2 linked regions of the Homo sapiens genome follow. The protein of the gene in region 1 purifies or fractionates together with the protein of each later gene. This does not show direct contact. Each region holds a gene or a part of one and is shown in the gene's direction. Other genes may lie near its edges.

Region 1 (5,566 bases):
CCTATGTCCTGAAGATTGTCTGCTTTCCTCCAAGTTGTACAGGATTGCCTTTTATATTTAAGTCTGTGATCCAAGGTTGTCCAGTTAGCCCAGAAAGGCTATCCTTCCTCTATTGAATTGCTTTTGCACTTTTGTAAAAAAAAAAATCAGCTGGGCATGTTTGTGTGGGTCTATTTCTGGATTTTCTCTTCTGCTATTTTTTTTTTTTTTTTTTTTTTTTTTGAGACAGAGTCTTGCTCTGTCACCCAGGCTGGAGTGCAGTGGCACAATCTTGGCTCACTGTAACCTCCGCCTCCTGGGTTCAAGCAATTCTCCTGCCTTAGTCTTCTGAGTATTTGGGACTACATGCACGTGCCACCACACTTGGCTAATTTTTGTATTTTTAGTAGAGATGGGGTTTCACCGTGTTAGCCAGGCTGGTCTGAAGCTCCTGACCTCGTGATCTGCCCACCTCAGCCTCCCAAAGTGCTGGGATTACAGGTGTGAGCCACCGCGTCTGGCCTTTTATTTTTATTTTTTATATTTATTTATTTTATATTTATATTTTTATATTTATTTGTATTACTTTTATATTTATTTTTTTGAGACAGACTGTCACTGCGACACCCAGGCTGGAGTGCAATGGCGTGATCTCGGCTCACTGCAACCTCCGCTTCCCGGGTTCAACCGATTCTCCTGCCTCAGCCTCTCGAGTAGCTGGGACTACAGGTGTGCGCCACCACACCTGGCTAATTTTTGTACTTTTAGTGGAGACGGGGTTTTGCCATATTGGCCAGGCTGGTCTTAAACTCCTGACCTCAAGTGATCTGCCTGCTTCGGCCTCCCAAAGTGCTGGGATCGTAGGTGTGAGCCACTGAGGCTCACCAACAGTGATATTTATGGAAACGTGTCCATTTTCTTGTAACGTTCAGAGACTCTGGTCTTCTTTAAACCTTACGTTTGAGCTGGTTTTTGATAGCGCGCTGGTGGAGGAGGGGGTGCTGGCTCAAGATAAGGAGGCAGAAGTCCAGGTTCCCCTCCCCACCAACGCTGTCCCATCCCCACCAGGCCCTCAGGAATTCCTGAGTGTCTGCTTGGCCTCTGACAAGAGCCGGCAGGTCAGGGGAGTCCAGTCTCCCGTGTGCTCTCCAATGACTCCTGGGGAGGTGAAAGTCCCCACTCCTTCAGGGAGGGAAAGGGGGCGGGGCACTGTTCCAGCCTGGAGTGTGGGAGGGATCTGTTTCTTTTTTTCTTTTCTTTTTTTTTTTTTTTGAGAAAGGGTCTCCCTCTGTTGCCAGGCTGGAGTAAGGCTGGAGTGCAGTGGTGCCATCTCGGCTCAGTGCAACCTCCGCCTCCCAGGTTCAAGCGATTTTCCCGCCTCAGCCTCCTGAGTAGCTGGGATAACAGGCGTGCGTCACTACAGCCTGGCTAATTTTTGTATTTTTAGTAGAGATGGGGTTTCACCATATTGGTCAGGTTGGTCTCAAACTCCCGACCTCAGGTGATCTGCCCACCTCGACCTCCCAAAGTGCTGGGATTACAGGCGTGAGCCACCGCGCCCGGCCAGGAGTCTGTTTCTGTGTTGCTAGGCTGCCCTTCCTGGTCCTGCTAGGGAGGGCTGGCTTTGGTTGGCAGTTCCAGCTTCTGCAGGGCTAGGTCTAGGGCAAGCAGAAAAGAAAGCCCCGGGCTCCCCCTGCACTGTCCCACAGCCGCCCTCTGTCACCCGTGAGAGTCTCACCTGTGATGTCCAGGGTCTCAGTTGTCCCCAGTGGGAGGAAGCGGGAGAAGTCCCCTGGCCCACCTTCCTGAAAGCAGAGGTTCGCCCGGCCTGTCAGGGCAGCGGCGTCCGCCTGCAAGGGGGGCCGCTCAGTGCTGTGCGTGAAAGAGCCTCGCGAGCTGCAGGGCGTGGTTCTCTGCCAGGTGTCCGCGTTTATCACCCCTGGAACTGTCCGCCATCCTCAGAGACCTCCCCTCGCACAAAACCGAGCAGATGGTGTGCTTAGCGAAGCCGCCGTGGAATAAGACTTCAGCTGAAGCACCACGCAGCGCTCCCAGGGCAAACGTTTCCTTTCGGGCTTTCTGGAAGTTTGATTTCACGTGCTGTCCCATGGCCGTGCTGGGCAGAAAGGGGTTTATCCTGGATGTTCCTGGGGCATATGAGCAGTGAGATGTGAGGAGTTCTCAGAGCTGGGCTCCTTTTGTTTGGGAAGGTGGAGGGGAGGCAGGCCGCGGTGGGAGCGATCCGCACCTGGGCACTCACGGATGCTGGAGTAGAAGCGATGAAGGAATGGGGAGCGGGGACGGAGGTTGGCTGGCCTCCAGCTCTGCTCTGGGAGCCTGAGCTCAGTGGGGTGGGAGCAGTTCTTGCAGGCCGGGGTCTGGCAGGAGGAGGGGCACACAGGTTGTGCGGTGAGAGACGGGACTGAGGCGGATGGGGGCCGTGGGTGGGGGGTGGGGGCACCTGTGGGGAACACTGGGGGAGGGTGGGCCGGGAAGCCCACCGGCCTGGCCCTGGCTGTTCATTACAGGGGGCAAGCGCGATGAAGAGCTGGTTCTGCCCATCAACTCCTCCCTGAGCGTCACTCTGCACCAGGACCAGGTATGTGTGGACTGACGACTAAACACCACAGTGCCATTTCCAGAACATTTGTAGAACAGTTGGTACCCGTTGGGTATGGTGGCTCACATCTGCAATCCCAGCACTTGGGGAGAGTCTCTTGAGCCCAGGCATTGGAGACCACAGTGAACCATGATCGCACCACTGCACTCCAGCCTGGGTGACAGAGTGAGACCCTGTCTCTGAAACAAAAAAAAAATTGGTACTTTTTTACCTAAAGGCTAGGATGAGATGGCCTAGCGACGACTCCCAGCCAGCACGCAGTGTCTGTTCCATCTCCCAGTATTAGGAGAGCTGAGCACAGCACACATGTGCCCCCAGGTCTCGTCACACATGCGCACACCGTGCCCCAGGGGCTCCCCTGGGAGTCCCCGTCTCTTTATTCAGGATAAGGCCTGGTTGCTCCACAAGGTGTGGCCCACGCTTTCATCCCCCACGGGCTTCCCCACTGCCCAGCTGAGACTGGCCTTTCCCCCCCTGCCCTCAGCAGGGCTGACCTTGCTCGAGTGGGCAGCCATGAGGCTCTCTCAGTAGAAAGGGGTACCTGGCTGGCATCGGTCCTCAATGCTGGCCTCTGAGGTGGCCCTGGGTTTCCTTTTCAGTTAAAAACCACCACAACAGCCGTCATCAGCAAGGACTTCACCGAGGACCGGATTTGGCTGAATGGCCGGGAGGAGGATGTGGGGCAGCCGCGGCTGCAGGCCTGCCTGCGGGAGAGTGAGCTGGGGTCCCCATAAGCCCATCCCTCCCTGTTGTCAGCAGGGTCCGAGCATCCAGAAAGTGCTTCTGCCTCTGTGCCCCTCCTGAGGCAGCAGGCGGGGTGGCTGGGAACCAGACATGCCCGCTGGGCCGCCAGCTCCAGGGCAGTGGCCCACCTCAATGACCAGCTGGGCTTGGGTCAGTCTGGGGTTTTCCCGGGTAAGAAACTCTCCACGAGGAGTCTGGCAGGCAGAGGCCTGGTGTTCAGCTGTGACCCCGGGCAGGTGGGCAGGAGCAGGGCGGGCAGGGTGCTGACGGCTGGGCCACACGCTGTCTCATTGTCTCTGCAGTCCGCTGCCTGGCCCGGAAGCGGAGGAACTCACGGGATGGGGACCCGCTGCCCTCCAGCCTCAGCTGCAAGGTGCACGTGGCATCGGTGAACAACTTCCCCACGGCTGCGGGCCTGGCCTCCTCAGCGGCGGGCTATGCCTGCCTAGGTGGGTGCCCACAGAGACCCGCAGGGGTTCTGGGCTGTGGGCGCAGGAGCCACTTCATGCTCTTCCCGGGTCAGGGAGCCCACTGCTGGGCGTGGCTAAAAGAGCATCCCCTCACCCCAGGCCTCCCTGGCCTCTCTGGAGTTGTTCAGTCTCTTCCCAGAGCACATCTGAACATTTTCATCTTCCAGTTGCAGCTGGCGTGGGGCTCTCGCCTGTAATCCCAGTACTTAAGAGGCTGATGGGGGAGAAGCACTGTAGGCCAGGAGTTCAAGACCAGCCTGGGCAACATAGTGAGACCCCCCCCCATCTCTACAAAAAATAAAAAAATCTTCCCGTTGCTGTATGTGGAGCCCCTCTAGATTGTCAGTGATAGAAACCACTTCAAACTGGCTCAGCCCTAAAATAGCGATGATTTTGTGGCTCACGTAACTGAGGATTCCAATGGGCACAGCTGGTTGCAGGCCCCGCTGGACCCAGCTCTCTGCTGGCCCCAGGCCACTTGCTGGCAGCTTCCCACCCACTGTCAGAGCCTGTCCCCCCGGTGGTGGTCTCACACCATCTTCACCCCTCAACTCCAGGGGTGACGCTTCCTGGCCCACCTGGGCTCCTGCGCCTTCCCTGAACCACCCTCGGTGACCAGGGTGGGTGACCAGACCTGGAGGTGGGGTTGCCCTGCTGGAGCCCTGTGGGAGGAGGGGAGAAGGTGGCTCCCGTGCTGGGTGGGCAGGGGGCGCGTCTTGTGGAGTCCAGCTCTGTCCTGGCATCGGTCCCTGCCCCACACAGCCTTAAAATTCCTTCCCACCCTCAAAGCCCAGCTTGGGTGTCCTCGGGGGCCTTTCTCCCGCCTTCCATGGGGCTTCCTGCTCTGCCGCAGGTACCTTTTGTTGCCCTTGTCGCGGGCCGCAAGCTCTGCAGGCCGTGAACAGAGAGTGTCCGAGAGTGGAACTAGCGGAGGTGGGGGACAGACGGCTGGGCCGGTGAATGCTGGCCTCAAAGGCTGATGGCCCAGAAGCCCTGTCATCTGGAAATCCCCATTTGCCGTGGGGTGTGGGACGTTCCTGGGGCGGTGAGCTGTCAGGGAGCACAGCGCAGGCAGCTCTGAGGACCCTCCCTGAATCCGCATGCCTGCAGCCTACACCCTGGCCCGTGTCTACGGCGTGGAGAGTGACCTCTCAGAAGTGGCTCGCCGGGGCTCAGGCAGCGCCTGCCGGAGCCTGTATGGGGGCTTTGTGGAGTGGCAGATGGGAGAGCAGGCCGACGGGAAGGACAGCATCGCTCGGCAAGTGGCCCCCGAGTCACACTGGCCTGAACTCCGCGTGCTCATCCTTGTGGTGAGTGGGGTGGGGCGGGTGGAGCAGCAGCCCGGTGGCCTCTGTCCCTAGTCAGGGCTGCTGCCGGGAGCAGGAGCGAAGGCGTCCATCCAGGCTTTGCTTGGCTCCTGGGGTCAGCGGGGGCTGAAGGAACAGAAGCGTGGTTGAGTGCTCAGGAACCGCTCCCATGCGGCGGGCGCCACCACCCGCTGGGATCTGGAAGTTGCCCCTGCGTCACCCCTGCTGTGGCCGGGAGGCCTCTGTGGTCAGGCAGGTGGCACTGACTCCCACCCCCGCTGCCTGCATTGGCTGAGGGAGGGCCGAGTGTTTGAGGCTGAGGTCCTTGGGGCTGGCCCCCTGCAGGGTGTGGCCCAGGCTGTCTCTCCCTCGTGCAGGTGAGCGCTGAGAAGAAGCTGACAGGCAGTACCGTGGGCATGCGGGCCAGTGTGGAGACCAGCCCCCTG
Region 2 (4,533 bases), on another chromosome or scaffold:
AAGCTAATCTTTGCACTGGCTGAGAAAGAGTTTTCTGGAAAAGACAGATGAGTTTCAGGAGAACCCTAGACCTTCCAGCAATGACAGCAGATGGTTGTCTCCCAGCAGCCTGTGTGGCCAGGGCCAGGCTCAGCCAATGCTCCAACCCATGGAAGCCACCAGCCATCACCACGCTACAATCCAGCTCCCAATCTCACCTCCTGGAAGAATCTCACCTCTCCAGGCCTTGGGCTTTGTCCTTTTTCCTTCTTACTGTGACTTGGCCATGGAATGGAAGCTGTCTCTGTAGCAGGGGGTGGGAGGCTGCTGCATGCGGATGGTGTGAACTCAGGGCTCCCCCCAGGGGCTGACGGAGCCTCTCCGCTTCTGCTTCTCAGGCCAACATTGGCCAGAAGGAAGACTTCGAGGAAGCCAGGAAGAAGGCACTGAAGCTTGGGGCCAAAAAGGTACCAGGCGGGAGGCAGGGATTTGGGCTGGGAGTGGGGCGGTGATGTGGAGGGCAGTGGTGGATGCTCCTGCCCCAGGGATCCCATCCCTTCCAGTGTGTCTTCTTGCTTCTAAGAGTATGAGATCATCCTGCTCTCAGGTGTGTGAACCCTCTTGTTTTTCTGCCTCCCCCACGCCCTCTTCCACCCACCCACCTTCCCATCCAGGTGGAGTGTCTCTTCCCCACCCACATACCTTCCCTTCTCTTTTATCTCTCTGTCCATCTATGCACCCACTCACCCTCTTTTATCTCTGTTTATCTACTCGTCCACATATCCATCCATCATTCATCCCTCCATTAGCTATCCATCGATCCATCCATCCATCCATTCAGCCATCCATCCATCCATCACCCACCCATCCATTCACCCATCATCCATCCATCCATCCATCCATCACCCACCCATCCATTCACCCATCATCCATCCATCCATCCATTCATCCATTCATCCATCATCCATCCACCCATCCATCCATCACCCATCCACTCATCCACCCATCCATTATCCATCCATCCATTCATCCATCCATCCATCATCCATCTATCCATCTATCCATCCATCCTCCGTCCATTCATCCATCATCCATCCATCCATTCACCCATCATCCATCCATCCATCATCCATCCATTCATCCATCATCCATCCATCCATCCATTCACCCATCATCCATTCATCCAGCCATCATCCGTCTATCCATCCATCATCCATTTATTCATCCATCATCCATCCATCCATCCATCATTCTTCATCCTTCCATGCATCATCCATTCATCCATCCATCATCTACCCATGCATCCATCCATCATCCATCCGTCTATTCATCCATCCATTCATCCATCCATCATCTATCCATCCATCCCATTATCCATTCACCCATCCATCCCTTCATTATCCATCCATCCATCCACATATCCATCTGTCATTAATCCCTCCACTGTCTATCCATCCATTCATCCAGACAGCCAGCCATTCATCTATCCATCCCCCATCCATCCATCCATCCTTCATCCATTCACCGTTTTTCTATCCATCCATTCATCCATCCATCCATCTGTCATCCATCATCCATCCTTCTGTCCATCATCCCCCTACCTGTCCTTCCCTCTTTTATCTCTCTGTCTACCCATTCTTCCATTCATTCAACAGAATCAGAGAACTCCAATTGAGTCTGGTGCCTTGATTGTGAATCTAGGCATGTGGCAGGCAGACCCCTGTCCCATACAGGGCATTTATGATGAACAGTGTCATCAGGACCCCTGCTCACATGTGCTCACTCCCCATGGAGAAGCCCTTGCCACTTGTGCCCCTTCATTTGGGAGAGTGAGCAGGGGACATAGCAGGGATGATGTGCAAGGCCACCAGCCCACCTGCAGGGTCAGAGCTGATCCCCTCTGTGGGGTGCTTCTGCAGGGTTGCCAGGGTAATTAGCATGTTAAAATGAACACGGGAGGGAGTGGATGCCCCAGTCCCAAGTCACCTACTGGCCACAGGCCTGGAACTAGAATGTCCCTCCTTGGTTCTGTGCCTCCCGAGTGCTGGAGAGCAGAGGGGTTGTCTGAGCAGTAGTCCAGGAAGGGGAGAAAGAGCCCTGAGTGTTGAAGATTCGAGTGCGCTTTCAGCAGCGCAGGAGCAGGCTTTGTGCACGGCTTCAGCTTTTGTCCTTTATTCTAGATGAGCAGTTCTCAAAACTTGTGGTCTTGGGAATCCTCTACACTCTAATTTACGTGGCGTTTTTAATGTTTATTTTCTTGCATATAACATTAGGATGGGCCAGGCACAGTGGCTCACGCCTGTAATCCCAGCACTTTGGCAGGCTGAGGCAGGCAGATCACCTGAGGTCAGGAGTTCAAGACCAGCCTGGCCAACATGGTGAAACCCTGTCTCTACTAAAAATACAAAAATTAGCTGGGCGCGATGGTGGGTGCCTGTAATCCCAGATGCTCGGGAGGCTGAGGCAGGAGAGTCGCTTGAACCCAGGAGGCGGAGGTTGCAGTAAGCTGAAATCACACCATTGCACTCCATCCTGGGCAACAACAGCAAAACTCTGTAAAAAAAACCAACCAACCAACCAAACAAACACAAAAACACATTTATCCTAATGTTTTTTATATATCCTTAGTCCCAATTGCTTTCTTTTCTATGCCTTTTTATTTCATTTTTTAAAAGGATTTTTTTCAAAATAATTATAGACACAGGAAGTTGCAAAAGCAGTACCAAGAATTTCTCGACTCTTAAAAATTATTGAAGGCCTTGGCTGGGTGCGGTGGCTCACGCTTGTAATCCTAGCACTTTGGGAGGCTGAAGTGGGCAGATCTCTTGAGGTCAGGAGTTTGAGACCAGCCTGGCCAACCAGCCTAGTTTCTTTAGTAGAGAAACCCCACATGCCTGTAGTCCCAGCCACTCGGGAGGCTGAGGCAGGAGAATCACTTGAACCCGGAAGGCAGAGGTTACAGTGAGCCAAGATTGCACCTCTGCACTCCAGTCTGGATGACAGAGAGTCCATCTCAAAAAAATAAAAATTACTGAAGGCCTTAGAGAGCTTTTGTGGATTACATCTGTTGATATTTATCACATTAGAAATAAAAGCTGAAATGTTTTAAATGAACAGTTCATGTTAACATAAGTAACATTACACTTATGAAAAATAACTATTTTCTCAAACAAAAAATTTTAGTTAAGAATCTTATTGGCTTCCATTTTTGCAAATCTCTGTAATGTCTGGCTTGACAGAAAACAGATGGACTCTTGTAGCGGTTTTCTGCATTCACTTGTTTTTTCGTTTGTTTGTTTGTTTTTCTTTTTTAGCCTCCCAGGGCTTCCTCGCTATGTGATGCCTTGTTTTATTGAAGTTTATGAAGAAAACTGGGCAACACAGTGAGATCCCATCTCTACAAAAAATAAAAAACTTAGCCGGGCGTGGTAGCACATGCCCGTAGTCCCAGCTACTCAAGAGGCTGAGGTGGGAGGATTGCTTGAACCCAGGAGGTTGAGGCTGCAGTGAGCTAGGATCACACCACTGCACTCCAGTCTGGATGACAGAGAAAGACCCTGTCTCAAAAAAACAAAAAAAAAGTTTTCACTCAGTGTCTCCCTGAAAAGTCATTGGGAACCCCTGGGGGTCTACATTTCAAGAACCATTCCTCTGGATCGGGGTTTCTCAGTCTTGGCCTTGTTCCCGTGTGGCTGGCCGTCCTGTGCACGGGAGGATTTTAGCAGTATCCCCATAGCCTTTACCCACTAGATGCCAGAATTCCACCCCCCACCTGGTAGTTGTGGCAACCAAAAATATCTCCAGATACTTCCAAATGCCTCCCCTACTCCCACCCCCAACAGGGACAAAACCGTCTCTGGTTGGGAACTACTGCTGTGAGATCTTAGGTGACAACTAAGTTTCATCTTGTTGGGGCTGATTTAGAAGCCACATCCAGTTTCACAGAACGGTGCATCAGGATTGATTAGCAGGCTGGCCGCGGTGGCTTGTGCCTGTAATCCCAGCACTTTGGGAGGCCGAGGCAGCTGGATCACCTGAGGTCAGGGGTTCAAGACCAACCTGGCCAACATGGTGAAACCCCGTCTCTACCAAAAATACAAAAATTAGCAAGCCATGGTGGCATGCGCCTGTAATCCCAGCTACTCAAGAGGCTGAGGCAGGGGAGTTGCTTGAACCTGGGAGACGGAGGTTGCAGTGAGTTGAGACTGAGCCACTGCACTCCAACCTGGGCAACAGAGCAAGACTTCGACTCAAAAAAAAAAAAAAAAAGAGAGCTATTGATTAGCAATGTCTGCCATGAGTGCAGGAGGGAGAGTAACAGTGCAGTGTGCTGGGATTGATGAATGATGTCTACTACAGATGCAGAAGAAGAAGCACCAGGTACAGCGGGGGTGGCCCCGTATAGGTCTCAGCTAGCTGAGGCCCCTGGGGCTCTGTATGCCAGATGGCCCCTGTCCTTGCCTACTTCTTCCTTCTGGGCTCCTCTTCCCGTAGGTGTTCATTGAGGATGTCAGCAGGGAGTTTGTGGAGGAGTTCATCTGGCCGGCCATCCAG

Evidence for each region.
Region 2: the proteins of MVD (region 1) and ASS1 fractionate together in Homo sapiens (co-fractionation; one large-scale study listed by BioGRID). This does not show direct contact.

The regions. Positions count from the first base shown.
Region 1 is NC_000016.10:88,655,662-88,661,227, reverse strand, and holds part of MVD (diphosphomevalonate decarboxylase), read left to right. Parts: intron 1-590; exon of another isoform or gene 591-708; intron 709-2,507; coding exon 2,508-2,578; intron 2,579-3,198; coding exon 3,199-3,313; intron 3,314-3,645; coding exon 3,646-3,792; intron 3,793-3,980; coding exon of another isoform or gene 3,981-4,082; intron 4,083-4,923; coding exon 4,924-5,123; intron 5,124-5,497; coding exon 5,498-5,566. UniProt on the Homo sapiens protein: Catalyzes the ATP dependent decarboxylation of (R)-5-diphosphomevalonate to form isopentenyl diphosphate (IPP).
Region 2 is NC_000009.12:130,453,928-130,458,460, forward strand, and holds part of ASS1 (argininosuccinate synthase), read left to right. Parts: intron 1-377; coding exon 378-446; intron 447-4,473; coding exon 4,474-4,533. UniProt on the Homo sapiens protein: One of the enzymes of the urea cycle, the metabolic pathway transforming neurotoxic amonia produced by protein catabolism into inocuous urea in the liver of ureotelic animals.